Linked DNA regions of Homo sapiens: regions 2 and 3 are each linked to region 1. Evidence: fine-mapped expression QTL. A gene starts in region 1. Each other region holds a variant in brackets. All regions are shown on one strand. Distances are between the middles of the regions. Region 1 holds the start of BCAR3 (BCAR3 adaptor protein, NSP family member). Region 2 overlaps DNTTIP2 (deoxynucleotidyltransferase terminal interacting protein 2). Region 3 overlaps BCAR3 (BCAR3 adaptor protein, NSP family member).

Region 1 (10,402 bases):
GAGGCATCTGGCTGGAAGGAAGGAGCCTACAGCCACAGAAGGTGGTGCGATGCTGTAACATGCCAACTAGTTTCAGAAGGGGACCCACCCCTGCAGGAACCAAGCACAGCACTGGAGCTGCTGCATGTGAGGTATCAGCAAACAATTTGGTCTAAGAGGAGGTTAGATACTGGTATGCACAATTAGAAGTGAGGGCAGATGGAGATTTTTAGGAATCATCAACATAAAGGCAATATTTAAACCAGAGAGTAGATCCCTTAACTTGTTATTATCAGATGTGATAACAGCTGTGAAGTACCTCTTAAACTGTCAGGAATCATACAATACCCATGAATTATACCCCTGCTCTCTCTTACCATGGCTTCTTCAAGCCTATAAGGACCAAAGCAAGGAATGAGTTCTACTATAAAAACGTAAACCATTGGTTCTCAACCTGGCTACACATAAGAATCCTCTGGGAAGCTTTTAAAATCCTGATGCCCAAGCCTCAGCCCAGAACAATAAAATGAGAATCTCTGTGGGCGGGACATTAGCATCAGTCTCCAGTATTGACCAATGTGAAGCCAGGATTGAGAACCACTGGATTAGTGAGTCTTTTTGGTACACAGCAATTGAGTCATAATTGTTTACCTGCAAAACAGAATTCAATGATGATGAAGGAGTATCATTCAATCAATAGAAACATTGATTCTTCAATGCATACATTCATGGAGGGTCTCCTTTATGGCTGGCACTATGCTAGGTGTTGGGGACAGCATTAAACAAGACAGAAGTGGTCTGTCCTCATGAAGCTAATAATACTCTGGAGGAAGCAGACAATAAATTATGACCATAAGTACTGGTAATTCCCAGTCCATTTTTCTAGATAAGGGAAATAAATGTTCATTTGATATATATTCTCTGAGGGCTTATGGTGTACCAAGGCTAAGGATATAATAAATTAGACAAGCTCCTGCTCTCATGGAGGAATCCAACCTATACAAACAAGAAAATGAGTTAACATCCAAGTTGTAAGCACGCTAAGGAATATAAACAGGATGAACTGACAAAGGATGACTGTTGCGGGTGGAGAGCTACTTTACATTAGGGTGGACTGGGAAGGCCTCTCTGAAAAGGTAACAATGACATGAGACCTGAAAAAAGGCAAGGGAAGGAGCCAGTCAAAAAAAGGTCTGAAGGGGGTTCCAGGCAAGGGATCTGGCAAATGCAAAGGTCTTGCCATAGGAACAAGCGGTTGGAATGACAGCTGATGGAGACTAAACCCAAGTCTCCAGCCTCTGGCTCCCATGTTTTCTCCACTTGGAAATATTTCTGTCTCAATGTCCCTAGTCATTATATACTTCTTATGTACCATTTGATTTTTTAAAAATAAAATGGTATGACTCAGAACCTAGGCTTTGGAGGCAGATATCTACAGGTTCAAATCTCTACTCTGCCACTGACTTACCAGCTGTATGGCCTGGGACAAGTTACTCAACCTGACGGTTTCTCATTTTAAAAAATGACTTAACAGCTATTTCATAAGATTGTTGTAAAGATTAAAAGTGATTGTGTATACAAAGTTCTTGAAATACTGCAAACACTTAGTAAATAGCAGGTCCCCTCTAAGCAGGACAGGGGCTGCTCTTATCTATCTTGTCAGATAAGAGTCACTGTATCTCTGTTATACTGAGGGTTCACAAAGGAAGTAACTCTGAGAGTTCACAAATGAAGACTGCAACTGGGAAGGATGGGGAGGGAAACGTTTTAACCTAGAACAATAGATGCAAAGACACCAAGCCAAGTAGGACATGGACACGGACACAGACACAGACACACGTACAGGCAAACCAAGTGAGCCTACATGCAGTCTTTAGAAAAAAGCCCAGGTGAGACTCTGGCCATCTGACTTCTCTCTACTGTGCAGGAAAACAAACACAATGTCCTGACTCAGTCTAATGCCAGATTTTGAAATATTATACAAAAGTCAAAGACTCTGCATCTTGATATGAAAATCTGAGACTCATGTGAACATCAGGAACAAGAGCGAGGCTGACAAACTTTACCACATGTGCTGCCTTCCTGGGCCTGGTCAGTCGCTGGGCTTTGAAATGTTTGTGAACTGAGGCCCAACTCACTTGCTTTACAATGATGTCTCAAAGAAACTGATGATCTTGCAAGCTGAGGCAGAGATAAGCAGCCCACTTGTTTGGATTTTACTCTTTTATTTCTGAAACGGGATATTTTCAAGTTTAACTCATAATGGTTATCTGATGTGAGCTTTAAGAACTTTTCATTATATTTTAAACTCTGGAAATGTAACCGTCTCGGCTGCCCCATGACAGAGAATTTACAACTTGGATCTGTAGTTTTATAACTTCTCTGGAGAGTCAGATGGAGAGAGGAGATGAAACAACCACACATATTCAATTGGCTTATCCACTTAAAATGAAGTTTTGCTTGGGTTTAGGAATTAAGAGTATCTCTTTATTTTTGAAGTAAACTTATGAAGTCTAGCCAAATGATTCAAGTATGAATAATTCCTCCATGGATTGTATTTCAAGCAACACAGTACAGGATTTACCCGATAAGGTTCTTAAGATTAGCATCCATTTGACAAGCAGTTCTGCCTATATGAACAGGAGATTTAGACCTTGGTTAGTCATCCTGGAAATGCCAGCCTTCTCAGCAGCACTTTAGAGAAAGTTGGAGTTGGAGTGGTGTGGGATCCCCTGGCTTGGCAAGGTCTTTACGTTATCCTCAATACCCCCTGGCACGCCCGCAGACAAGCGCTTTGCCTGTGGGCTTCCCATTGTTACCCGGGTAGCCCCTTCCCACTTGGACCTGTGTTGAGCTGGGCCCCACCCCCAGCACTGAGGCCTCTCCCAGCCTCCAGGATCTCAACTCAGTCCCAGGCAACACAAGGGAGGCTATCAGCTCCCAAAATGACCTTCCCTCGGCCAGCGTACTTTCCTTGGGGAGGTCTGTGTAGCCTTGGGAGATAAAGTCAAGGTTTAAAACAATCTGAATGCACGGCTCTACTTTCCATCTCAGCTAACAGCTTTAAGCGAAAACAGATATGAGGTTAGGAAAATGGTTTTTCTCCTTTGCACCTTGCTTCAAGCGAGTTAACCCCAACCATGACCCGACCCGCCGCCCCACGGAACACGCCGCCTTGCCAGATGCTTCGGAGTCCGCTCAACCTCCTCCTCGACGAGTGTCTACACCTGATTACACCGTTTTAAAGCGGCGGCGCCCTCAGCGGCCTAAGTGGGTAAGGACAGTTGGGCTGTACGATCTATCGGAACCTCCTTCCCACCGTCCCTCCCTTCCTTTGCCTTCCCTCGCCTCTCCCCACCGCGACGCAGAGGGAGCAACACAACCAACTATTCATTCTTTCTCAACAAAGGGAGAGAGGGAGGGAGATGTTGTCAACAGTTACAGGGCAGGCTCCTTCGCTTTCTTTGCAAACTTCCCAAGAGATTACCGGAGAAACTCGCCTCCTCGGAGCCTTGGGCTTCCACCAGAGCGCTCTGGGCCCTCGCATCTGCCCGACCCCGGCCGGCTTCTGCGAAGAGGGGACGGGCGGGACAGGGCGGGGTGGCCGGCAGAGCAGCTCCGACGGGCAGGGGGTCGGGCGAGGCCAGCGCCCGGGAAGATGCCGCTCGAGTGCCACCGAGCAAGATGCCTGGCCGCCAATCGCTGAGCGCTCCCCGCCGTGGGCCACGTCTCGGGGAGTCCCAGCGCGCTCGGAGGGCCTGGAGAGCGCAAGCCCCAGCCCCACTTCAGTCACCCCCGCCCCCAACGCCAAATCCGCTGGCGGGGGTGGGTAGGGACCAACAAACGCCGGCTCTACTTTCCCCAGAGCCTAACTTTGTCCAACAAACTTCCTAGCGTGTCCTCACCGGGGTGGGGGAGGCCCAGGCGCCCCGGGAGGAACAGCACCCCGAGGACGCTGGGCGCGCGGCGGAGACTCACCTCCCGGCGCGGCGCTGGGCGCTCGGGCTCTCAGGATCTCTGGACCTCCGGCTGGGGCTCAAAGGCGCCGCGCGGCCGGCCTCGCACCGCCCGCGCCGCGGCTGCTCCCGGAGCTGGGGACGCTCATGGTCCGCGGGGCGTGCCCGCCGAGAATCCCGCGCGCGTCTAGCCGGTGCGCCCCGCAGCTCCGGCTCCGGTCCCGGCCCCGTCCCCCGCCCGGCCAGCAGCAGGCGCAGCTCTGAGCCGGCGGCGCGCACTCCGGCCCTCAACTGGTGATTTGCGGCTCCGCGGCCCCACCCCGGCGAGCCGATTCGCGCTGCCTTGCGGAACCCCCCGAGACATTTACATTCGGTGACCTAGCCAGGCCCTCCTCTGCCCGGATTTTAGAGTTTGGCTCTCTTCGTATCTCCCCAAGGAGCCAGTCCTCAAGTATAGCTCGATCACTTCCTTTCTGAAGCTCTCTCCAGAGACAGCCTCGTCGAATCCACTCCTTCCCCTTCCCCGCGTTATTTAATTACCCAACAGATCTGCTTTGCTCGTCTGCAGACACCTGGCTGGCTTTCAATGTGAAGGGCTTTGATGAGACAAAGCCCCAGGTAACCACAAATGAACCATCCACGGGAACAGGCAAATCAATTGCACTCGTATGGACGTATTGAAAGCAAAGTGCGAGTTGGCGGTGGCACTTCAGCACTAGATGATTTGGTGGGGTGAAAAATTGGAGCCCACTGGAAAAGACTTAACACTATCTTATATCAAGATCCATTATAAAGTCATAGAAATAGTAGAAGGATAGACAAACTGACCAATGGAATAAAGTCCAAAAACAGATTTACAATATGTGGTCACTTGATTTATGTCAGGTGCTGCTGTGCTGTATTGGGGGTCAGATTAGCTCTCTCTTTCCAGTAAATGATGCTGGATCAACTGAATCCCCCCATCCCCAGTCAATTCCAGATGGAATTTTTCTTTTCGAGACAGAGTTTCGGTCTTGTTGCCCAAGCTGTTGTGCAACGGCATGATCTTGGCTCACTGCAACCTCCGCCTCCCGGGTTCAAGCAATTATCTTGCCTCAGCTTCCCAAGTAGCTGGGATTACAGGCGCACGCCACTATGCCCGGCTAATTTTTGTATTTTTAGTAGAGACGGGTTCACCATTTTGGTCAGGCTGGTCTCGAACTCCTGACCTCAGGTGATCCACCCACCTCGGCCTCCCAAAGTGCTGGGATTACAGGTGTGAGCCACCGCGCCCGGCCTCCAGATGGATTTTAAAGGTAAAAAGTAAACCAATAACACGATCCAAAGAAAATGTCCAAAAAAATCTTCATTACCTTGGGGTAGACAAAGACGATGTCTTAAACACATGTAGTACTAATATAAAGAAAAAAAACTCATCATTGGACAAGATTAAAATTAAGAGCTTCTGTTCATGAAAAGACACCACGAGTGAAAAGGCAAACCGCAGAGTGAGAAAACATAATTGCAACACATACATCCAAAAAAGGTTTGTTTACAGATATATAAAGAACACCTACGGATCAGCCAGAATAAGGCAGAAAATCCAATTAAAAACAGGCAGAATATTTCAACTGTCCTCAAGAGAGGACAAACAGGCATTTCTCAAAAAAGCCAATAAACATATGGAAAATATCTCAATTTATTAACCATCCCAAAAATGCAAATTGATATTTCAATGTGATCTAACTTCATACCACCCAGAATGACTAAAATTAAAGGGCCTGACCATACTGCTCGTCAAAATGAACTTTTTACAACCACTTTAAAAACCTGCTTGGCATTATCTAGAAAAGCTAAATTAACATGTATCCTATGACCCAGCAATTCCACCCCTAAGTGTGCACCCAACAGAGATGTATACACATATTCACCAAAAGATGTTGAAAAATGTTTATAATGTATCTCTTTATGACGGCCAAAAAGAAAACAACCCAAATGTCCATCAGCAGAAGAGAGATAAACTGTGTAACATACAACATAGTAATAAGAATGCATGAACTCATTTACACTCAACAAGATGAGTGAATCTTACAAATAGGATATTGAGTGAAAGAAGCTGGCCGCAAATGGGTACATACTATATGATTCCATTTACATAAACTTCAAAAATAGTCAAAGCATATCTGTGATGTTAAAAGTGAAGACAGTGGTTATATTGAGCTGTGGATTATGACAGAAAGGGATCCCAGAGGTGACTTCTGCATGCTGATAATATTCTATTTATTAATCCATGTCATTTTATAAAAATCACCTGTCCTTCAGTTTATAAAAATCAATTGATTTGTGCATGACTCTGCTTGTATGTTTTACTCCAAAGAAATTTTTTTTAATTGTACTGTATTGGGTGTACCATTTTAATCCCTCTTAGAAACAGTTGTTGGTAAGTCTACAAGATTCTAAGTGCAGCATCCTTTAGAATGAGTACCTTTCGCTTATGAGTGTTTTTGTGGGTTAGTCTTTATCCTTCCTACTTCATTAGAAGCATGAATATTTGATTTTTGTTGTATTTTCCCCCAAGTGTTTAGTGCAGTGAATGTCAAACAGACCAGCTAGTATATTTCTAAATCGAAGTATCCGAAATTCATTTACTGATTTTCTGTTGCTCTGAGGTGTCACTGAGAACAGTGGAAAAACATTAGTTTTTCTTGATTTTCAAAGTTCCCTGAGTACCTACTATACAGTATCTACTGCATAACCTACAAAGTTTCTAGTGCAGAGCATGGGGGAGGTAGCAATAAAGAAAGACCAGAAGAAAACCTTGGGCAAGCCATTCTTCCCCTCAGTCCCTCCATTTCCTCATGAGTAAGTGAATATATGCCCACCTCACAGGTTTCCATGAGAAGTCAAGGAAATAATGGATGTGAAACTGCCTAGCACATAGCAGGTTTCATTAATTATCACTAGAATTGATGACACATTCTATCATTTGTCTTCACAATATCCCTGAGAGATAGGAGGCATCTCTATCCTCATCTTACATGGGAGGAAACAGACTCAGGAAGGTTAAGTAACTTCAACCATAAATTCATTCAATAAATACTTGTCGTATGCCTACTGTGTGCCAAGATGCATAGCTAGTGAGAAGCAGAATCTGAATTTGAATCAGGTGTTTTTTGTTTTTTGTTTTTTGTTTTTGAGACAGTCTCGCTTCTTTGCCCAGGCTGGAGTGCAATGGTGTGATCTCAGCTCACTGCAACCTCCGCCTCCTGGGTTCAAGCAATCCTCCTGCCTCAGCCTCCCAAGTAGCTGGGATTACATGCACGTGCCAGCATGCCCAGCTAATTTTTGTATTTTGAGTAGAAACAGGGGTTCTCCATGTTGGCCCAGCTGGTCTTGAACTCCTGACATCAAGTGATCTGCCTGCCTCAGCCTCCCAAAGTGCTGGGATTATAGGCGTGAGCCACTGTGCCCGACCTGAATCAGGTATTTTAAGTTCAGTGGATCTTTCCATCAAACCACAACCACATTCACATTTGTATCCCCTGGGCCTGGCACATGGTAGATGCTCAATATATGTTAATGGTTTAATAGTGGGAGTAATTTAAATATAATTTTTTGACTAGGTAGTATTCACAGAACCATTGCAGTATGGTTCACAAGTTAAAACTATATAATAAGGTATCCTGTGAAAAGTTCCCCTCTTACCTCTGTCTCCCATCTGCCCAGACCCCCTCCCACTAGAAATAAGTACTGCTATTAGTACTGCTATTAATATTGTATGTGCCTACCAGAGTTTCTATGTGTGTGTGTGTGTGTGTATGTGTGTGTGCGAGTGTTATTACCCCCTCCCTACACAAAAAGTAACATACTATACCCATTGTTCTACACTTTGCTTTTTAAAAACCACTTAATATATCTTGGAGATTTTCATATATTAGTACAGAGGGACTCTCTTCATTCTTTTTTGCATAGCATTTCTTTGAAGAGATGAACCATAATTTACCAAACATTTAGCTTGTTTCCAATCCTTTCTTATTACAAACCATATGGCAATAAATAAAATGTGCAAGTATTCTGTAAAATAAATTTCCAGAGGTAAAATTGCTGAGTCCAAGGGTATATGCATTTGTAATTTTGATAAATAATGCCAAATTGCCTTCTATAAGGATTGTACCAATTTCTACTCCCCAGCAATGTAAGAAAATGCCTATTTCCCCACAGCTTGGCCAGAAGGTGTTATTAATAACCCCTTCAATTTTTGTCAACTTGATAAGTAAAATATGAATTTCAGTGTAATTTTAATTTACATTTCTTTTATAATAAGTGAGGATGCTTATATTTTCATGTTTAGTAGACTTTTTTTTCTTTTTTGGAATTTGTATTCCTGTTTTTCTACCCATTTGTAGGTCTTTTTCTTACCAATTATCTAGGACCTCTTTCCACATTAGGAAGTTTAGCTCTTTGTGCTATGAGCTTCACATATTTTTCAATGATAATATTAAAAGGGGTGACATATGCAAAATACTGTTATTTTAGGAAGCAAGTAGAATGAATTAGAGAAGTGAGAGACAAGTTGGGGGCACTGATCAGAAGGCTATGGAATCACTTCTTGCCAAATGACAAGGGCTTTCTCTAGGCTGGTGGGAATAGAGGTAAAAGGCCAAAGTTATTACAAAGAAATAATTGACAAGAGTTATTAATTAGCTCCAGGCACTGTGGTGCATGCCTGTAGTACCAGCTACTCGGGAGGCTGAGGTAGAGGATCACTTCAGCCAGGAACTTGAGGCTATAGTATGCTATGATTGTGCCTGTGCATAGCCACTGCACTCCAGCCTGGGCAATACAGTGAGCCCCATTACAAAAAAAAAGTTAATAATTAGCAATGATAACAATTACGATAACATTAGCTGTACTTGGTTTAGAAGTAACTACATGCCAACTACTATGCTAAGTGCTTTACAAGCTTTAAGCCATTAATCGATACTTGCCCCATTTCACAAATGAGAAAAGTGACTTTACCAATTAAGAAACTTACTCAAGTTCAAATGAGATTTAAATGGCAGAACCAAAGCTAACCCCAGGTCTGTCTGACCCCTGCTGCTTGGCAGAGTGGAGGAGAATTATCAAAGGTCTTCAGTCAGAGTGCCTGAGTAACTGCCTGGCTTGGCAACAGATGTCAAAGCTGGAGAACAGCTCCCTTTGGCTGGAGGGACAAACTCAGTTTTAGAAACGCTGAGCATTTTTCAAAGCTCATTCTTGTCCATGACCACTCTTGCTATAGTGTCTTTGTGAGTCAAAGAGGGTAGTATCCCTATTTTACTGGTGAGAAGACTCAGGTACCACAAACTAAATAACCAGATGTTCTATTCCCTAGGAAACCTTCCCTGACACCCAGCATAGGTCAGGTTCCCCAGTTAAATGTGCCTTACAGCACCCTCTCCTTCCTGGAATTTGTCACAGCCAGTAATTATTCATTTCCGTTATTGCTGTTGAATACCTGTTGCTCTATAGACTCTAAGATCTATATCTGGTTTTGCCTTTGTTTTGTTCTTAGTTTGGGGCCTGGCACTCAGTACTTATTGAATGAATGAACTCCTTTGGCTTTTCACCTTTATATTACATCATAAATCTCCCCATAGGCTAAATAAATATAATCCCCTGGATGTTGGTCATGCTATAAACAATTTTAGAATTCAAACTTCTTCAAGTCCACAACCAGGCTTCATCTAAACATTTATTTTATTTTTATTTTTATTTATATATTTCTTTTTGAGATGGAGTCTCGCTCTGTCACCCAGGCTGGAGTGCAGTAGCATGATCTCAGCTAACTGCAAACTCCGTCTCTTGGGTTCAAACGATTCTCCCGCCTTAGCCTCCCAAGTAGCTGGGACTACAGGTGTGCGCCACAATGCCAGGCTAATTTTTGTATTTTTGTAGAGACGGGATTTCGCCATGTTGGCCAGGCTGGTCTTGAACTCCTGACCTCAAATGATCCACCCACCCCAGCCTCCCAAAGTGCTGAGATTACAGGCGTGAGCCATCACACCCAGCCACACTTAAATTTTTAAATATTGCAACCCTGGGTTCCTTTGCCCAAGAGACACATGAACAGACAACATAACAATGACTTCTGAGCAGCACAAAAGCCTTTGTCAGGGAGCACTCAACCTGGAGTTGATCCCTTCCTGCCACAAAGTAATTGGTTGAGTCCCATCCCGTAACAGCACTAATTAACAGGCAGCTGGGGTAGGCATTAGATGAAATGCACTTTAACAAAGAACAATCCCTAAAGTTCTTGCTTTGCCAAGCCCTAACAGTAACAGGTAAGGAATAACAAGTGCTTAAGCTATCACCAAGGAAGATCAATCAGAAAAGCTGAACTTGAACAACTGCAGAAAGAAAGATAGAGAATTCCCTGAAGTTAATATATCATAACTACTGATACAAAGAGCTGGCAACACTGATATGGACCAGAAAGGCAAAATTCT
Region 2 (10,402 bases), 180 kb after region 1:
GAACTCCCATTCACAATTGCTTCAAAGAGAATAAGATACCTAGGAATCCAACTTACAAGGGATGTGAAAGACCTCTTCAAGGAGAAATACAAACCACTGCTCAAGGAAATAAAAGAGGATACAAACAAATGGAAGAACACTCCATGCTCATGGGTAGGAAGAATCAGTATCGTGAAAATGGCCATACTGCCCAAGGTAATTTATAGATTCAATGCCATCCCCATCAAGCTACCAATGACTTTCTTCACAGAATTGGAAAAAAAACTACTTTAAAGTTCATGTGGAACCAAAAAAGAGCCTGCATTGCCAAGTCAATCCTAAGCCAAAAGAACAAAGCTGGAGACATCACGCAACCTGACTTCAAACTATTCTACAAGCCTACAGTAACCAAAACAGCATGGTACTGGTACCAAAACAGAGATATAGACCAATGGAACAGAACAGAGCCCTCAGAAATAATGCCGCATATCTACAACTATCTGATCTTTGACAAACCTGACAAAAACAAGCAATGGGGAAAGGATTCCCTATTTAATGGTGCTGGGAAAACTGGCTAGCCATATGTAGAAAGCTGAAACTGGATCCCTTCCTTACACCTTATACAAAAATTAATTCAAGATGGATTAAAGACTTAAATGTTAGACCTAAAACCATAAAAACCCTGGAAGAAAACCTAGGCAATACCATTCAGGACATAGGCATGGGCAAGGACTTCATGTCTAAAACACCAAAAGCAAGGGCAACAAAAGCCAAAATTGATAAATGGGATCTAATGAAACTAAAGAGCTTCTGCACAGCAAAAGAAACTACCATCAGAGTGCAGGCAACCCACAGAATGGGAGAAAATTTTTTCAATCTTCTCATTTGACAAAGGGCTAATATCCAGAATCTACAATGAACTCAAACAAATTTATTAGAAAAAAACAAACAACCCCATCAAAAAGTGGGTGAAGGGTATGAACAGACACTTCTCAAAAGAAGACATTTATGCAGCCAAAAGACACATGAAAAAATGCTCATCATCACTGGCCATCAGAGAAGTGCAAATCAAAACCACAGTGAGATACCATCTCACACCAGTTAGAATGGCGATCATAAAAAAGTCAGGAAACAACAGGTGCTGGAGAGGATGTGGAGAAATAGGAACACTTTTACACTGTTGGTGGGACTATAAACTAATTCAACCATTGTGGAAGTCAGTGTGGCGATTCCTCAGGGATCTAGAACTAGAAATACCATTTGACCCAGCAATCCCATTACTGGGTATATACCCAAAGGATTATAAATCATGCTGCTATAAAGACACATGTACACGTATGTTCATTGCAGCACTGTTCACAATAGCAAAGACTTGGAACCAACCCAAATGTCCAACAATGATAGACAGGATTCAGAAAATGTGGCACATATACACCATGGAATACTATGCAGCCATAAAAAATGAAGAGTTCATGTCCTTTGTAGGGACATGGATGAAGCTGGAAACCATCATCCTCAGCAAACTATCGCAAGGACAAAAAACCAAACACCACATGTTCTCACTCATAGGTGGGAATTGAACAGTGAGAACACACGGACACAGGAAGGGGAACATCACACACCAGGGCCTGTTGTGGGGTGGGGGGAGGGGGGAGGGATAGCATTTGGAGATATACCTAATATTAAATGACGAATTAATGGGTGTAGCACAGCAACATGGCACATGTATACATATGTAACTAAGCTGCACATTGTGCACATGTACCCTAAAACTTAAAGTATAATAAAAAAATAAAAATAAAAATAAAAATAAAAAGAAATTCAAGAGCAGCCTGACCTACATGGAGAAACCCCATCTCTACTAAAAATACAAAATTAGCTGGGCGTGGTGGCGCATGCCTGTAATCCCAGCTACTTGGGAGGCTGAGGCAGGAGAATCGCTTGAACCCGGGAGGTGGAGGTTGTGGTGAGCCGAGATCGCGCCATTGCACTCCAGCCTGGGCAACAAGAGCGAAACTCTCTCAAAAAAAAAAAAAAAAAAAAAAAAAAAAGAAGAGGGCTGAGTATAGAAGACAGAAACCCAGCACAGACATTTGAAGGACAGGCAAATAATGAGTCCTTCCAAGAGACCAGGAAAGGGTGTCCAGAGAGATAGGAAGAGATGCAGGGAAGAGGTGTTTCCCCAAGAACCAATGGAGCAAGTTTCCTCTGGAGGAGAAGGGGGTCAAGAGGAAAAGAGAATCACCTAACATTTTTTGAACACCTGCTTTATGCCAGAAAGTTTATTTAACCCTTACCATTTAATTATCCCCCAATTCTAAGAAGTGTGAATTATCCCCATTTTACAGATGAGAAAGTTAAGATGCAAAGATGTTCTGAGAGTCGGGTGAAATGATCAGCCTAAGAATGGTAGAAAAATGCCTGTCCTTCTGAGGCAAGAGGGAAGGGGGCAGAGATAAAAGCATGAAGGTAGACAGGGGACAACTGAAGGTGTTCATGTTTGAAGACCTAGCTTCTGTGTGCTCTCTTTTACAGCTCTACTCATACCTAGGACCTAAGGAAGGTATTGACAAAGTGGAAGCTGCCTTAAAGGATGAGACACTCCCACCTTTTTGTTGCCTATGACCAATACAGATTCTAAAAGACCAGAGGTCAGGAGCGGTTTCATATCAATTTCCTCCTTATCTGGGACCTTCTACATCCATCAGTTTATATTTTGTAACCTACTCACCCTCAGTATGTAACTTTTGAGTAGTAGTTTGTGCGAGGAACTATGCACGAAGGAAATACAAACATGAGTGAGATAGAGTGAATATTCTTAAAAGTTGAGCCTAGTGAGGGACAGAGAGCATGGATTGGTGATTTCATTAATTAGGATTGGTTTCAGCTATGAGTGTGACAGGACACCCACAATAATGGTGGACTTTACAAGATAAAGGCTTTTTCTCTCTCATGTAGAAATAACAGCTACCAGGGAATAGCAGCTACTTAATCATGAGAGATCCAGGTTCGTTCTTATTCTTCCATCCTCAAAATGCATATTCTTCCATCCTCAAAATGCAGCTTCCACCTCCTGCTCCAAGATGGCTGCTTCTGGTCAACATACCAGGAGCCATCAGGTCAACGTACTAGCTTGTGGGAAGGAGATGAAAGGGCAGAGAAGGGCCCTACTCCAACCTCATCCATCTTTGAAGGACACTTCCTAAAAGTTGCACATACCACTTTTTTCTACTCACATCCCATAGGAAGGTGGGAATTACAGCTTTTTTCCCCCAGGTGGCCACATTCTCAGCCAAAAATCAAGTGTCCTGTAACTACAGAAGAAAGTTAAAGTCCAGCAATTTCTGCCAGTGATGCTGAAACAGGTGTGCAGATAGCTGTAGTTCAAGACAAGAATAAAAGTGTGACAGAGATTTACACTTACTAGTTCTGTGACCATAGATTAATCTCTGTGCCTCAGTTTCTCACTTATAAAATGGGATAATAGCACCTACCTCATAGGTTTACCAAATGCCTAAGTTATTACATACAAATATAATGTTACATATGTACATACGAACTTAGGTACATAAGTGTAACATAAAAATAAGTTATATGTGTAAGTCCTTAGAACAGTCCCTGACAATAAGTGCTATATAGACATTTGTTAAATAGAAATAAGTGGAGTAAAAATAAGCACAGGCAAATAGGAGTATATACATCCGTGTAGAGAATCTGAAAAAGGCTTTCTGAAGCATGTAGACTGTCAGCTCTGTGATGGCTAGGATGACCTCCTTTCCTGTGCACCCCTAGCACCTAGTGTGGTGCCTTACACAGAGGAGATGCTCAAAGTATTGGTTGCTGAATAGGCTTCAGGTCAGTACTATTTTGTTAGGTGAAATGGAGGCAGGAAAGATATTTTAGGTGGAACTAACCATATGAACAAAGACATAAAAGGTGAACCTGTCATGGTACTTGGTGTGCATGGAACTCAGTATATGTTGATTGAATGAATGCTCAGTATCAAGTAGTTTGGTTTGGCTGAAATGTATCAGTCTGGTTTGGACAGAAAAACACATCACTCTAGAGAATTTAATATAGGGAATTGTTCCACAGGTGGCAGAAATGCTGAAAGTGTTGGCAACGCAGATACTGCAACAGTAGGAAACGTCTACCACCTCTAGTGCCAGAGGGACAATGGGAGATGGTGTTACCGGAACCTGGAAGCCTGAGTCATCTGGCTGGTGGGGGCTGGGAGCATGGTGGGGCCACAACCCAAACCAAGGCAGAGGAGAGAAATACCCTGGTTTATTTCCTCTTCATGCCCCTCTGTCTTTTGTCAGTGTCTTACTGTTAAGCCAGTTGGCAAGGGAATCTGGGAAATGTAGTTTCCTGCAATCCAGACACTCCAGAGCAGACCAGAGAAAGGGTGTGAAAAGAGCTGAGAGAGAAATAGGCAAGTAAGTAGCACAAGTGAAGTTTAGGGCATGAGTAGGGAAGCAGTGAATATAAACCTGTGGTGGCGTCATTTTGTGGAGGGGCTTGAATGTCAGGTCTTGAATGTAGGGTTTCTGTATGTGTCATTACGCAGAGGTGAGCCATAGAAGGTAAAATGCAGTATGGCCTCATTAAAACTGTTCAATGGGGAGGTTGGGGGAGAAAAGGGAAACAGTAGCTTCCCTTTGAGTACTTGTTATTTACTAGGCATGGTGCTAGTTTTTATTTAATCATCTCAGAAAAATGATGTGTTTGGTTCCAGATACGTGGAATTTGAGATAACTTACTAGTACTTCATATGGGTAATTTGCACAGTTAATTGGAAATGTGAGTCTGCAACAGAGGGTGGGGGATAGAGATGTAAGGATGGAGACTCTGGTGTCATCTGAAGAGATGAGAGCAGAAGTTGAAGGAGAGGGAGGACAAGATACTCAAGTCAAACAGTATCGAGAAAGAAGATGAGGGCAGGCATTAGGGAAACCAACAATTTAAGTGATGGACAGAGTAAAAAAATAAAGAGTAGGTAGGAGAAGCAGAAAAGCTGATCTTCCTACCGAAGCAGAGTAGCTGAAGCCTCAAGAAGGGGAAGATCAGTGTGTCAGATGACATTGTCTGGTTAGAAGGGATGAAGACTGAGAAAAAAATTGAATATAGCAGTATGTAGGAACAGTTTCTCTAGACTGGTGGGGCCATGAGGAGGTAAGGCAGCCTTCATCAGATGGCCATGGCTGGTTTAGCGGAGGAGGAGTAAGTAGTTTGCTGAGGCTAGGCGTGGAAGTTGGGTTCTGGGAGAATGGAAGTGTCCTGTATCTCCTGCGTGCTCTTTGGGTGTAGAGGCTGCATTAGCTTCCCTGCTGTACCCAAGTGCTTATATAATGCACAGGACTCAATTATTTGTGTTAGCTGACTCGCAGGATGAATGACTGAATTTGGCAGAAAGTATTTAAAATTGAATAAATGGATTGTGGAGTGGCAGTGAAAACCCAGCTGAGTCAATAGCTTCATTATACTTTCCTGAATCTCAATAATCTAGACTGGTAAGAATAAGAATAGTGAGTGTTTCCCTGACTGGGATTGGTGAGGCGAGAGTAACAGAAACCAAAAGACTATTAATAAAGAGACTAGCGGGGCATACAAAGAATTTTTGAAATGTCTGATGAATTGGGTCTAGATTGGTTAGGGAGAAAAATGTATCTTCATGAGGATAGAGGATTCAGAGAATGAGTGGCTGAAAGGCTTGAAATCATGATTTCACAATGTTTGGGGGGTGAGACCCAGGCATCAGCATTTTGAAGCCACCATAGGTAATTCCAAATTGCAGCCAAGGCTAAGTTGGAGACAACTGAAGGGAAGACTAACAGGATAACAGATAACAAGATACAAATTGGGGTAGTCTGAGTTAAGAATCTTGACCACTGAATTCTCAAACAACGAGTCTAAGGCCATGATAGTGATTCGCTAAAGTGAACTGGAAATGAGGGTAACTGGAATTGATAAAATTGAGCTTGAGGAACTACAGGGCCATCTTGATTTGAAGGTATGTCTTGTATGTCCTCCTAGAAATCCTCTATGCACAAACTTACCTAATTTTACATTTCATAGTTCATTGGAGATGTCTCATTTCTCCAGTGATAGAACACTGATCCGCTTATGACATTTAATTATAGGTCATGGTATTGATCCTACTTCTTGGAAGATTTTTCTTCACTTCAAAAACTATGTGACAATGAGAATAATTGCACTTTACATTTTAATTAGACAGATGCTTGGGGAATTGGTTAATTAGAAAGCCCTTTTTGTTGCAACCCTTACTGAAAACTTTCAATAAAGATATTCATCTAATTAAATAGTAAGTACAAATTCCATTAAGTAAACAATTAGGCATTTTTCAATGGTTTGGGATCTATTGTAGGTAATTATTCTGAACAAGTTGTCACTGCCTGAGAGACTGAATACCTGGTACATCTCTCAGAAATGTTAACTTTTTTTTCCCATTATGGTATTTTCTTTAACTTGCTGTTTCTAAGAATGGGATCCTATTAATGTATACCAGTTACTAAGGTTTTGTTGAACTTTTTTATATAGCCTCCCCACTCCCCACTCCTTTTGTGACATCTAGTTATGGGACCCAAAAAAGACATTTTCCCAGGTTTCAGAAGAGGAATATTGGTGTTTCTCTAGAGCAGTTGGTTTATCATACAGCAGAACACTGAACACAGAACTGATTGTGTTGGATGCTAAGAACCTAGCCCAGAGCCCAACTTTATCAACTGTAGTCTTACAGCATCTACTTTGTTTTAAGAACATTTTGGGCCAGACGTGGTGGCTCCTGCCTGTAATCCCAGCACTTTGGGAGGCTGAGGCCGGTGGATCACCTGAGGTCAGAAGTTCAAGACCAGCCTGGCCAACATGGTGAAACCCCGTCTCTACTAAAAATACAAAAATTAGCCGGGTGTGGTGGTGGGTGCCTGTTAATCCCAGGTACTTGGGAGGCTGAGGCAGAATTGCTTGAACCCGGGAGGCGGAGGTTGCAGTGAACCAAGATCATGCCACTACACTCCAGCCTGGGCGACAGAGCGAGAGTCCGTCTCT[C/CA]AAAAAAAAAAAAAAAAAAAGCATCTTGGAGCCAGATGGTGTATAAATACAGCATTCTTTTCGAAATCTTTCAAGATCTTCTCAGGGGTATCTTGAAGGTCTCTTTCACCAGCACACCTGACTGTGGCAGCCCTTTGGATTCTTTATACTTTTCTGGTATAAAGCCTTCAAATAGTTCCAGTTGGCTGGGCATGGTGGCTCACACCTGTAATCCCAGCACTTTGGGAGGCCGAGGCGGGTGGATCACTTGAGGTAAGGATGGCAAAACCCCATCTCTACTAAAAATACAAAAGTTAGCTGGGCATAATGGCATGCCCAGTAGTCCCAGCTACTTGGCAGGCTGAGGTATGATAATCGCTTGAACTTGGGAGGCGGAGGTTGCAGTGAGCTGAGATGGCACCACTGCACTCCAACCTGGGTGATGGAGTGAGACGTCTCAAAAAAAAAAAAAAAAGTTCCAGTAGGTGAACTGAGTTTAGTGACACAGGCCAAAGTCAGTAAAACCTGTTTCTCAAAAGACTTGCTTATTAAAAAGCAAAACATAACTTCATCCATTATTTAAATATCCAGGTATTTGTAGAAGGCCAGAAGCACTAAAGGATACAATTCTCTCATACTGGGTCCTTATTTTATCCAGTAGAAGGCAAAACATAGTATTCCAGAAACAAAAGTAGTTTTTTTTTAAAATAAAAGAGAACAGACATAGATGCTTCCCTAACTCCAACTATGAATGTTATTGTCAGTTCTGCTATTACTAGCTTTTGACTCCAAGCAGTAAATATGAGATTTTGGACATAGGTATGGGCAGACTGCATGACTAAAACACCAAAAGCAATGGCAACAAAAGGCAAAATTGACAAGTGGGATCTAATTAAACTAAAGAGTTTCTGCACAGCAAAAGAAACTATTATCAGAGTGCACAGGCAATCTACAGAATGGGAGAAAATTTCTGTAATCTATCCATCTGACAAAGGGCTAATATCCAGAATCTACAAAGAACTTAAACAAATTTACAAGAAAAAACCCCATCAAAAAGTGGGTGAAGGATATGAACAGACACTTCTCAAAAGAAGACATTTATGCAGCCAACAAACATGAAAAAACGCTCATTATCACTGCTCATTAGAGAAATGCAAATCAAAACCACAATGAGATACCATCTCATTGCCAGTTAGAATGGCAATCATTAAAAAGTCAGGAAACAACAGATGCTGGAGAGGATATGGAGAACTAGGAACACTTTTACACTGTTGGTGGGAGTGTAAACTAGTTCAACCATTGTGGAAGACAGTGTGGTGATTCCGCAAGGATCTAGGACCAGAAATACCATTTGACCCAGCAATCCCATTACTGGGTATATACCCAAAGGATTATAAATCATTCTACTATAAAGACACATACACAAGTATGTTTACTGTGGCACTGTTCACAATAGAAAAGACTTGGAACCAACCCAAATGCCCATGAATGATAGACTGGATAAAGAAAATGTGGCACATATACACCATGGAATACTATGTGGCCATAAAAAAGCATGAGTTCATGTCCTTTGCAGGGACATGGCTGAAGCTGGAAATCATCTCAGCAAGAACAGAAAACTAACACAAGAACAGAAAACCAAACACTGCATGTTCTTACTCGTAAGTGGGAGGTAAACAATGAGAACACATGGACACAGGGAGGGGAACATCACACACTGGGGCCTGTTGTGGGTGGGGGACTAGGGGAGGGATAGCACTAGGAGAAATACCTAATGTAGATAGGTTGATGGGTGCAGCAAACCACCATGGCACGTGTATACCTATGTAACCTGCATGTTCTACACATGTACCCCAAAACTATTATTAAAAAAAAAAAAGATTTCATATTTGCTGATATCTCAAGGAAGCAGTATGCTGGAAAAATAGAGGTAAAGTGAATAGTAACATAAAGGAAGCTACAACTCACCAAGTATCAACAGAAATGACCAACACTCCTTGGGTGCCAGAAACCAGCTTAGCCAGGGTGCATACTGTACCACTGGAGAAGAGGTAAGCTGGGTTAACTTCGAAGAAACCCTGGCCAACTTAAATTATAGTTTAATCCTGTTTTACTTGGACCACAACACTTAAATCTAGATAAAAACCAATTATTCCTCCCTGTTTCAGTTGCCAAGCAAGGAAAACAGCTCCTCTGCCCAAGCTTTCTAGGTCATATTCTTCATATCTTTGTATCCCAACTTTCTGGATCTGAATTTTATAGCTAACTATAGGGCATTGCCTCTCTACCATCTCCCGTCCCCTACACAGACACACACACACATACACACATAAAACTACCTATTAATTACAATAATGTTTATATATCTTTGATCATTTTTTAAAGTTCTTTGAACATGTTAGCAAACTTTATACTTCCTATCTTTTAATTAAATTTTCTTTAAATAACTAAGCATTGAAAACTTTACAAACCATCAGTTATCTTAAAATGGTTGAGATTTTTTTTCCTTTTTTCCCATAAAGAGTCTACACCAGGGTGGGTCTTTTAGACACCCCTATTTTCTAAGGGCATGTAATCGATTCTCAAATCAACTTTTTCCAAATACAAATTCCTGTATGAACAGGGCCAGTCTATGGTAAATTAATTTAGATGATGGTGTTAGTTTTCCAAACGTCTTTAATAAGTAAATAAAGGAGCAATGTAAAATGTTGCAGTTTGCTTGGTAAATCTTAATTGCGAAATTTCTTCTTCTTTCGGAACTTTTTTCCTGCTGCATTTGCTGCTTTTTCAGCCATGATCTCTGAGTACTTCCTTCGGTTGTATCTGAAAAAGAAAAATCAGAACTTTATGTTTGATATATCAGACATTAGAAGTTAATATAACCTTAGGGTAAAAGTTGGGAATGGAGTGGTGGACAAGACAAGTATAGTCTCTGACCTCATAGCACTTGCTTGCAATCTAGGGAGAAAAAATGGCAACTGTAGTAGGAAGACTTTCCTACTATATGCACTATATCCATCTATCTATCCATATATCCATATATGATCTATATATGCACTATATCCATCCACCAGGCTGTATCAAATGCTTTAAACATTTTTGAGGGATAAAAACACAAAAATCAGGACTAAGCAAAACAAAAAGTCACACTTATCCTGAAAATGCACAGTATGATATATATATTTCTTAGAAGCGACCAATGGTTTTCAAAGTGTGGTCTGTGGAGTAGACCCTTTCAAGGGATTCATTAGGTAAAAACTATTTTCTCAAGAATACTAAGGCATTAATCGCTTTTTTCACCCTCGTTCTCTCATGAGTGTAGTGTTTTCCAGGGGCTACGTGATGTATGTTATCTGCAGAAGCAGGTATGAGCCTC
Region 3 (10,402 bases), 71 kb before region 1:
CAGAGGCAGACTAGAAAGAGAAACCCAAGAAGACAGTAGGACTGGACAGGAAGGACACAGGAGAACAAACAGAATGCAGTGTCCTGGAGGTTGAGAAAGCTGATTTCAGGAAGAAATGGTCAACATTGTCAAGTGCTGCAGAGAGTTCCAATCATATCAGAATTGGACAGCATCCGCTGCACTTGGCAATGTGCAGGTCACTGGTGGCATAAAAGGGGCTGAGTGGCCAATGGAAAGGGAGGGAGTAAAGACTGTGTTAACTTACAAGTGAGAGTTTATGCATGTATGATATACAGAGGGACATAATAGACACTGGGGACTCCAAAAGAGGGGCGGAGGGATAGGGAGTGAGGGGCTGACAAATTACCCATTGGTACAATGTTCATTATTTGGGTGGTGAGTACATTGGAAGCTCAAATCCCACCGCTATGCAATATATCCATGTACAAACCTGTGCATGCACCCCCAGATCAATAATTTTAAAAAGACTGTTAACCAGCTTCGGGGTGGAGGAAGATGGGGACCAGGAATGAGCATGGAAACGAGGAGGGTTTTTAACATGGGAAAGACCACAGCATGTTTCTAAGCTAAGAGGAAACACGATCTCGTTATGAGAGTTAGAAGGACAAGGCCTGAAGAGAAGGTGGAGGGAGGAAAATTAGGGTGAGCTGAACTAGGACAAGCAGGACAGATGGGAGGCTTCAGGGGCCCAGGGAGGACACAGGCATGAGTTAGGGGGATGCTGCTGCTGCTCCTCAAACTCATCCCACACATAGAGTCCAACGCCCAAGCTCTCACTCACTCCGCATCCAAGCCACTTGCTGGGTCCCCACTGCCCTTAAAAAAAAAAAGGCCCAGCATGCTCTGTTCCCCAACCACCTCTATGGGCTCATCTCCTTCCACTCCTCAGCTTCAGCCTCAAGCTCCCGTATAGGAAGCTCTTTCCCTCTCCTGTGCCTTTTGTCCCTATGGCTCCTACAGTGTTATCTCCTTCAGGAAGTCCCCTGATCCAGGGCTGGGTTAAAGACCTCTCCCTGGATCTCACAATAGGCTGTGCATCCTTCCTGCCTTTGCACCCACCACAAAGCACAGCGTAAGCTGCTTGTATCTCCATCCGCCCACCAGACACAGCAGAGCTCCTTCGGGCGGAATGTTCACCTCTGTCTTCCCCCTCCTAGTAGGCCCTCAGTGCACATGCTAGGGGTAGGCTGGGGAAGGGCGATGAATCAATGGCTTCTGAGTCAGAGGCTGGATGGATAGTTCCTCAAATCTCATCTTACTGAGAATCCAGATTTTACTCATCAGTCCTTTCTACATAACTATTTTTGTAAAAGCACACACATATCTAGAGTAGACACTGGGGAGAGTTCTTCTCCACAAGAACTAAAAGACATGAAACATAGCACTTTCATGAGCTAGACAGAAAAATAGGCCATAAGATTCTCATGGCCAGAGCCAGATTTCAACAGTAGCTCCTGGCACTGTGGACACACACTGGAAATACAGCTGAGGCCAGAGATGGTGTCCAACCTCCTGAGGCTCTCCTTTCCTTCCCAACCAGGACAGGCTGAGTCTCCTCTGCTGTTCCTGGGGATACCCAAGATACCCATCAGCTAAAAGGCCCCCAAGCTATCACTGACAACATCTTTAAACCCAGCAACAGGCCTGGGTCCCCCGTGCACTGCTGACCTCTCGCGCAGGCTGTGCGGGGAGACCTTTGTGGTCGGAGCACACCAAGCCTCCAGCGTCCTCCCCAGTGTTTAGCATGGCCCATCCCTCTGCAGTCCTGGAGGTGCTGAATCCACTAACAGAATTTTCCCAAGATCCCAATCCCGTCTCTGCTTCCCACTTAGGTCTCTCCAACAAAAACAAGTTCTTGGCCAGGATCCCAGCTCCAGGGTCTGCTAGGGAACCGGGTCCTGGGACACAGGCTCTGTCAAGCATGTCTTTCCCCTGATATTGAAACCAGATCCCACCCAACCAGATGCCAATGGAATGCATTTAAGCCTCTTTCAAAAAGCTACACTGTCCTTTCTTTTTGGAGGGCTGGAGAGATAAGTGAGCAACTAGCAGCTGCCACGAGGAGGGGCTGAGTTACTTGGAAAGACATTTCCTGCAAGGCTTCTTCCACCTTGCGCAGCTCGTGCTGATGGTGCATCTGCCCCACTGACAAAGGCAACTCAGGCCATCGTCAATGCTGGGATGTGTCACCAGTCCCCAAGCTGTCACCGTAACAGACAGACCAAATGACCAGCCACAGGGAAGATGAGCAGGGCCTCTGCTGCACCACACACACGCACCGCCACAGAAAGACAGTTTCACATGAAACCAAGTTCCAGGGGCCTGGCACTCTAGGATGGGCAGATGTGACTCCTCAGGCTGTAATATGGATTCCAAGAGGCTCCAGATATTTTTTTCAGGGTAGGGGAAATGACTTTAAAGGAAAACAAAAAAGAAACAATACTACATAGCACTTCCTGGCTGCAAAGACAGTCGAATATAAGTCTAGGAAAGCACATGTCTAACATCCCTGCCTTCTGTGGCTGCTCATTGACAAGACCATGGCCACTAGACTTAAGGCCTGGTTAGCTGAGACTTACTGATTCCATCTATCCACAGGCACCACACCCCAACCTCTCTATCTGCGCTCTTTCAGAAAGGTGGCTTTTCCGCCCTTGCAAGGTAATTCCCGTCTCTTAGGTTCCTCTGACACAGGCACCCCTGACCTTCCTCAGGCGCAAACATTGACAAAGTGACAAGTTTCAGCTCCTTTGTCCCCTGTCCACAAAAATACCTAAATAAATAAGTTACTAACAGTCAGAGACACAAGGGGCCAGAAGAGGTAGGGGTTTGTTTCCAGTGCCAGCCCCAGAAATGTGACCCATTGTGCTTTTTACCAAGTTCCTCCTCTAGCTCACCAGGGACCTGGGGGCGGGCCTGCCAGCGGCCACTCCCTGTGCTCCCCTTCCAGGCTGATGCCTCCCTGCCTGCCCACACCGGGGTACTCCACGTCTCTACACTTTGTGCGTGCTCCTCTCTCCACGAAGAAGGCCAATTCTCCTCCTTCTCTGGATAACTTCGACTAATTCACCAGACTCAGCAAAGGCTCTGCCTCCCTGCAGGAGGCCATCCCTGATCCTCGCCACTCCTGCCCCATCTATGCCAGGCATGTGCCTCCAGGGAGCCACAGCACCCTCTAAAGAGAGCAACACCAAATCAGTGATAACCGATCGTTTCCTTCAACCAGAGTTAAATGTCTGCAGAATGCCCACCAGGCATGGTATTACAGCAGAGATCCCCACTGGACCAACAACTCCCACTGGGTCCCCAGCACCGACACATCCGAGGTACCACAACCGGTGACTGCTGAGCTGAACTAAGGATGCAATGGGATGAAAGCCAATGGGGAAATGTGCCTCAAATACTTATTAACCCCTGGTACAGGAGGCCTGGCTGCTGGGATTATTCCTAGATCCTCTGTGACTTCTCTGACCATGTCACACACTAACCTTCCCAGTGAACCTTCTGCTCTGAGCAGGCCTGGCCTTCTGCACTCCTGCAAATGCCAGTGGCTTTTCTATCTCTGAGCTACTGGGTCTGCTGCTCCCCCAGGCTGAAATGCCGTCCCTATGCCATTCTTTTCTTTGTCCATCCAAATCCCCAGTTATTAAAAAAAGGAGAAAAATTTAAAAGGGGTTACCTGTTCTTAAAAACAAACAAACAACAACATCAAAAACAAAAACAGTCCCACATCCTCCCTGAAGCTTTCCTAAAAACTAAGGCTCACACTGTTCTCTCCCAACTGAACTGCAAAATAAAGTATTAACATACACAATATCATCTTATTTTAGGCGTCAATTGTCTTAATATAGTACAGTAGAAAGAACGCTAGCAGCCAGGCATGGTGGCTCACACCTGTAATCCCAGCACTTTGGGAGGCCGAGGTGGGCAGATCACCTGAGGTCATGAGTTCAAGATCAGCACGGCCAACATGGTGAAACCCTGTCTCTACTAAAAATACCAAAAATTAGCCAGGTGTGGTGGTGGGTGCCTGTAATCCCAGCTACTCAGGAGGCTGAGACAGGAGAAGGCGGAGGTTGTAGTGAGCCGAGATCACGCCATTGCACTCCAGCCTGGGCAACTACGTCTCAAAAAAAAAAAAGAAAGAGCACTAGGCTTCAGCCCAGAAAATCTGCTTTCTATTCCTAGTTCCCCACGAAATGATTCTGGGC[G/A]GGCTGTTTCTCTGAGCCTTGGTGTGTCCTCTGCGGAAAGGGTAAATTATTGCCCTGCTCACCTCACAGAGCTTATTTTCAGACTCCAGTGAGACAAAGTTGTTGAAGTCTTCATAGCATAGAGAGCTTGTTTTGAGACTCCAATGAGACAAGATGTGAAAGAACTCATACATTTGAAAGTCTTTTGCAAATGTAATGAAGTGATATTATGACCTAATAATATCCTTGTGGTAAGTCTTTGAAGGCAGGAACCATGCCTCAAATCTCATTTATTGCCCCACACCTCCCACAAATCCCTCCCCACCTAACAGAGGGCTTATGCATGGACTTTACATTCAACACCCATTCTACATTCAACACGCATGGACTTTAGAACTTGAATATGTCTGTTAATGTTATGATCTGGAATATCTCCATTACAAGTTTCTTTCCACTGGGCTTAAATAAAACACTTTCGTCTTTTTTCCCCCAGAAAAAAGATCCAGTAGTCTTTTATGTAACGGCTGTCTACTGTGAACCCCTTCGGGATATTAAAGTCATGACCCTCAACATGGCTGGAACATCTTGTATTTGGCCCCAACTCTATGAGGGCCAGCACATCCCTGATCCTTCTCTCCATTTTCGGCCTCCCATTTAATTCCTTTCCAAGGTCTTTATACACAAGTCCGTATGAGGCCTCTAAATACATCCTAAATTCTGTAAGACCGCTGCAAATAAGATCTTACTCTCTAAAAACACCTGTATAATCATTCTCCTATGTAAGGAGGGACCCTCTATATTTTTAGTTTTGTTCCCATACAGCAAACACTATTAATACCATCGTACTTTCTCCAGAGATGATATGGATTAGACCAAATGGAAAGTTACCATGGCTACCGCAGTGTTATTTTTGGTATGAGAAATTCATGCCAAGAGAAGCAGTATACATGGTCAAGAATTGGAGCTTTATTTCCTCTTTGCTATCAGGCAATCAATCCCAATTTAATTTTGAAACTCTAATTGCAACGGAAACTAATTATGAGCAGCAAGATCTGGAACCCCTAATTAAAGTGGGAGTCAATAAAGCGACTCGGCATTATCAACTGGGGCACCACTGGCAGGATGGGGGATTAAGTACAAGCAGATTTCTTTCCCAAGTAACTAGCTAAGCAAAACAAAACAGGGAGACTCATCTTGAGGGTGCAGTTGGTAAACCCTAAGTTGGGACCGAGGGCTACAGTTTCCAGTGAGTGAGCAGCTCAGGCCTTCTCTCTGTGCTATGAAGACTTCGACAAACTGGGAATAGAGTAGAAGTCCAGGCGGAAAGAAGGGTGTTTCTACCACAGTCAACCACCAAGAGTGGCCACGGTGGAGAGATAGAGAGTGCACAAGCTGAAGGACAGCTGGACCCGACTACCCCATATATTAAGTGGCCTTTTCTATATATTATGTAGCCTTGGGGCCGTAACTGCAGACCAACAGGTACCCAAACAGAAACTCATCCCTCAGACCCAGATATTTATAGGCTGACTCCCTCATACACCCAATGCTGAGTTGCACTTCACTGAATTAGCAGAAGTTGGCTTGTGGAAGGACTTCTATTAGAGTGAAACCCACTGCCAATCCCCGAAGTGCACCATACCCTTTGGGACCTCCTAGTCTATCTTGGAAGCTTTAAAATACTGTTAATGGCATGACTTCATCTGCCCCACACTTGAACGATCCATATTTAGGCCAGAAACCACATGGATCTCGCATCACTTCACTGGGCTCCAGGACAGAAAGGGGCTCAAGTCAGGAAGGGAATGCTTCTAACCAATGATTAATTACTCATCCTCTGTCAAATTTCTTGACAAAGGGACAAAAATGAACACTCCTACCAGGGAGCAAAATCAATGGAAACTCACCCTTTTCCCACTCTGTATATTTTTAAACAAAAAGGTTTTCTCCCACTAACAGGTAGTTTTCCTGATTTTTTTAAAAGCGTATTGAGAAGAAAGAAGCAGAACATCATAACCCTGCTGCAGCCTTTTCAAAGGTAATGAATGAGCCAGTCCCACAGGAGAGGGAGCTCTGCTTCAGGGTGGGAAGGATTCCTTGAGAGCTTTCAGAGTCCAATTTCCCAGGAATAAACGAGGTCCGCAGTCAGGCTGGGGCCGACAGGCTTTTTCCAAGGCAGACAAACCCCAAGATCCACGAAAGCCTATATTAATCTTAATTCCTAGTGCGTCACAGGCAGGCAAATAGAACACAGGCCTCATCTTGAATTAGCCAAAGGAGGTTCTCTGAATATTTTCATCAAAATAGTGTATTGACATATTATACAAAGCTCTTGGCACCGGTGTCTTATAACAAATGTTAAAATGTGAGCAGTAAAGACAACAACAGTTCTGAACCCTGAGATGTTTTGAAACCTGGCTGCAATTTGAAAGGAAATATTGTGTGGCTTCTGTACATTATGTACATTATTGATAAGTAATGGACCAGCAGGATAAACAGAGAAAAGGGCTCAGCTACCTTGTGTTCGTTAGAAATGAAGGAAGAGAGACAAAGAGAGAAAGAAGAAAAATAGCTCTGTCCTATTGAGCTACTTTAGTATAAAATTTCAGCCTACAGAGAACTGAAAGTGTCCTGAAAAACAGCTTCAGCCCAAAACAGACAAGGAGCCCTGTTCTGTGCCACTGGGTTCTGCTTCCAGGGGAGGTACACCACTAGGGGCTCTTGAAGACCCATCAGTCAAAGAAAGCACCTCTGTTTTCACAATCAGCAAGCTGCAAACTTTTATCTATTGCCCTTTAGGAAACTCATGCTTTCAGGGTCCCCCAAAAGATTGACAGATGTACTTTATTTCCAAACCAAACCTACCTTGACTCCAATGAAAGACTTGCGGTGATAGAAGCAGCACAGAGCTGCTGAGAGGGCGTGGAAAGCACTGCATTCCTTAGGCATCTTTCGGTCTTCAGTCCCGGGGACCACACACTTTCTTTAGGGTTAAAAGAAAGGGGGCTTCGGACGTTAAAGCCCTAGCCCACCACAGCAGCTGTGCTGTTTCTGCCCAGAAGTCAGGGAAGTCGGCAGCCGGGGGAGTGAGTCGGCTCCTTCTCCCAGGCTAGTCTGGGACTTTTCCCCTCTGCTGAAGCCAATACGATCCACTCGCTCAATTCTCGCAGGCTGGTGTCCAGCCTGCCATGCACACAGTGCCAGAAATTCTCATGTGACCAGACTTGCTTTCTGATGAAATTCTAACCCCTCTTAGAAGAGGCCTTGGGCTTTAGCTGTCCCCTCAATTTAGAGACCAGGCAGAAATCATTAGCAGCCCCTCTCCCCCGACCCAGAATTTCCTTCTGGGGCTGAACTGTACCATGCGACCTGCTCCTAGTGGTTCTGTCTGCTTGTCACTCCAGCACCCAGAGGTTTAAGGAAGCAGGGTAAGTTGTACATTCACACCACCTTGTTATGAACAGAGGCTCCTTTGAGGAAAGGAGGTGGCCTAAAAGTGACTTTCCCTAGGAGAAATACTAGATGTACTAAGTAACCCAGGCAGGATCCCTGTCCTCACTCTCCCAAGCCCACCTCCAGAGCTGTTTATTTTTAATTAAGATGCTCCTGGCAGCCAGTTTGCAGCTGATAACGTTGGCACAGCCATCACTACTGGCAAAGCAATATTGCCTTTTGGTGTTTAATTAGCAAGTCTGTCAGCAAACACCCTGAGCGCCCTATGCCCTCCCACCTGGCTGTGCAACCTGTTGGGAGGATGGGGACTGTGTACCCACTTCTGACTCAACTGTTTGTCCTATACCTTCCTTTAAATCCTTCACTTTAATTACTCATCGCCACTCTGATTACCCACTTTGCGTAACCTAGATCCTGCACACAAACCTCGCATCCAACGCAGCCAAGCAAGGCCCTCCTGGATTCCCTGCGACCTGAGGCCTCTACCCCTACCAAGAGCCACATAACACCTTTAGGGAAAACTAACTGCTTTTCCCTTCATTCCAGTTATAGCGGATGCTCAACGAGTTCTTTTTTTTTTTTTTTTTTTTTAATCAAATCCAGATTTCTGCCTGTAGCTCTTCCTCTCCTATCCTACCGCTCCAAATATTAACTTTTTGTGGCTTCGGCCTCAAATATGGAATGTGTCCTGAAGCTTTCTAAAACTTCACACAGGCAGAAACTTGTAATGAGGAAGAAACAAGATCTATTCAGTCCAGAAAGGAACAATACCAGATGAGGCATGAGGGAGGTATGAGAAATATCCAACGGGATTAGCGTCAAATCCTCGGGAGACCTTGGCCTTTGGACTAGGTCAAGTCTGCCCACAAAAATAGGAAATTGCTCTGGGCCCAGTGAGCAGGTATGGAGAGCCACAGTCTCACACCCACGCAAGGGCAAGGGCCCGGCCTCATCAACGTGTCAACATGGGGATGGAGCTGCTAAGTGAGGCGCTATTGCCACAGCGAGTGTGGGCGATGACTTCCTTTCTGCTTTCCTCCCTCACTCATTCTCCTCTCTGACTCTGGAGGTCTGGTCTGCAGTCTTGACGGCTCCCAGGCCACAGAAAGTCCACCAGAGAACCTAGAAGGAAGCACCAAGGTGGCAGAACTCAGAAGGGTTTTCTGAGCTGGAAGAGCCCTTGAAGACTGTCTGGTCAGTGGGTCCCCACTGTCCTCGAAGGTCCAGTACCGCACCTGTGAGGAAGCGTTTTCTGGCTTGCCCTCATTTCCGTTAGATGGAGTTCAAAGGGTAAGTCCGTGTGAGCAGCCAGGCCCAGGCCCCAGCAGTTCTGTGAGCATGACTCATCAATCAGGCCATTAGCCACCACAGAATGGGCCATTTTCACCTGGTATTCTCCTTGGAGAGCAAATAACGATTCCTTCAAGCTAAAAACCTCCCCAAGAGGCTAGACAGGCACCATCCCAGGCCTGAGAAAAGGGAGGGGGGCAGTGACTGAAATCCTGCACAGAAATTCGTGAGATTAGTCAGCCAAGAGACTCCGAAGCCCAGACACCCTTCCCCCAGAAATCGTGAATGAAATGCATTCCTGAAAGTAATATGCAAATAACTCAGACATGTAAATCACATAGAATTACGAATAAAGTGCTCCACAGCCAGGGTAAAAACAAAACCAAAGACACTTAGGTCACTGTGGTATCACAGCTCTTGTTACCTGAGGTTTTCTCTGTTTATTCTAAGAATATCTCCAAAATACCCAAAGAATTTGTTCCACCGGGATTAAATAATGACTAATCTTATTAGGTAACTGTTTCCTAAGCATCTTTTATTTTTATTTCACACCAAAAATAATTTCTGAAGCAGCACTCAAAGGTTTTAATCAATTTTCTCCTGAAACGGTCAAGGAGAGAGACTAAAATAACGTGTTGTTTTTGTAACTAAAGATGATAATTGCATACATTCTCAAAGTGCCCTTCACTGACTTGTTAAGCTTTTAAACGCTGCCTATTTACGCTGATCAATTCCTCCCATTCTCCCCACAATGATTATTCTAGTTACAAAGAAATAGAGGACCAGACCTGTGTACCACTCAGCAGAGAACAAAGGGCTAGGGACTCCAACCTCAGACTGCAGAATCTGGTATCTGATCACATAGAAACACAAATAGATTTTTTAATGTCTTATAATTAAACCTGTTACTCACACAGCCCCGTGAAAGGGCTGTGACCTGGGGCAGTGGGCCACTTTCTGATGATCTGGTGTGTGGGATTTGGGACTCATCAAATTTGGATACAGGGCTTTCTAAACACCATGCCCCTTTCGGGATAGGGGAGGGCATTTCTAAGGAACTCCCAGGGACTGAGGAAGGGAGGGGCCCAGTCAGGCAGCTCTGAGCTCTGGAAAAGGTCCTACAGGGTGAACTCCCATCCACCGCCCTTCTCTGGCTGCCTGGAAGGCTCACTCCTTTGCACCGAGGGAAACACTTGTGATTAAAGCCATGGCTGGGAAGCCAGGTGGGTCCTTGAAGGAAACCTCTATTACCTCAGGCCAAATGTTGCCCACCCTCTAATTCAAAAAGGGGGTTAAGGCAGGCCGGAGGAAGACCCCTGCATAAGCACTGCCCTCAATGCCAGTTTTTCCTTGGGCAGCCCTAATACTAACCTGCCCTATTTAGTAACCATGGAAACAGGAGCTGCCTGCCAGCCATATTCAGCAGACACATGCTTCCTGTTGGCAGC

The links.
Region 2: its variant is fine-mapped to the expression of BCAR3 in regulatory T cells (Schmiedel 2018, PIP 0.95).
Region 3: its variant is fine-mapped to the expression of BCAR3 in lung (TOPMed, PIP 0.93).

The regions. Positions count from the first base shown.
Region 1 is chr1:93,677,641-93,688,042 of GRCh38, forward strand. BCAR3 (BCAR3 adaptor protein, NSP family member) reads right to left here and starts at 4,197. Exons shown (of 12, transcript NM_003567.4): 1 at 3,958-4,197. RefSeq lists a silencer at 3,940-4,219.
Region 2 is chr1:93,860,096-93,870,497 of GRCh38, forward strand. It overlaps DNTTIP2 (deoxynucleotidyltransferase terminal interacting protein 2), which reads right to left. Exons shown (of 7, transcript NM_014597.5): 7 at 6,189-9,849. The coding sequence ends at 9,756. Among named protein-coding and RNA genes, the nearest start is that of DNTTIP2, 14 kb to the right of the region's middle. The variant C/CA (reference allele first, on the strand shown) is at 7,048.
Region 3 is chr1:93,606,771-93,617,172 of GRCh38, forward strand. The region is part of intron 3 of BCAR3 (BCAR3 adaptor protein, NSP family member); the gene reads right to left. Among named protein-coding and RNA genes, the nearest start is that of BCAR3-AS1, 20 kb to the left of the region's middle. RefSeq lists enhancers at 2,926-3,489, 6,724-7,377, 7,378-8,030, 8,684-9,336. The variant G/A (reference allele first, on the strand shown) is at 4,233.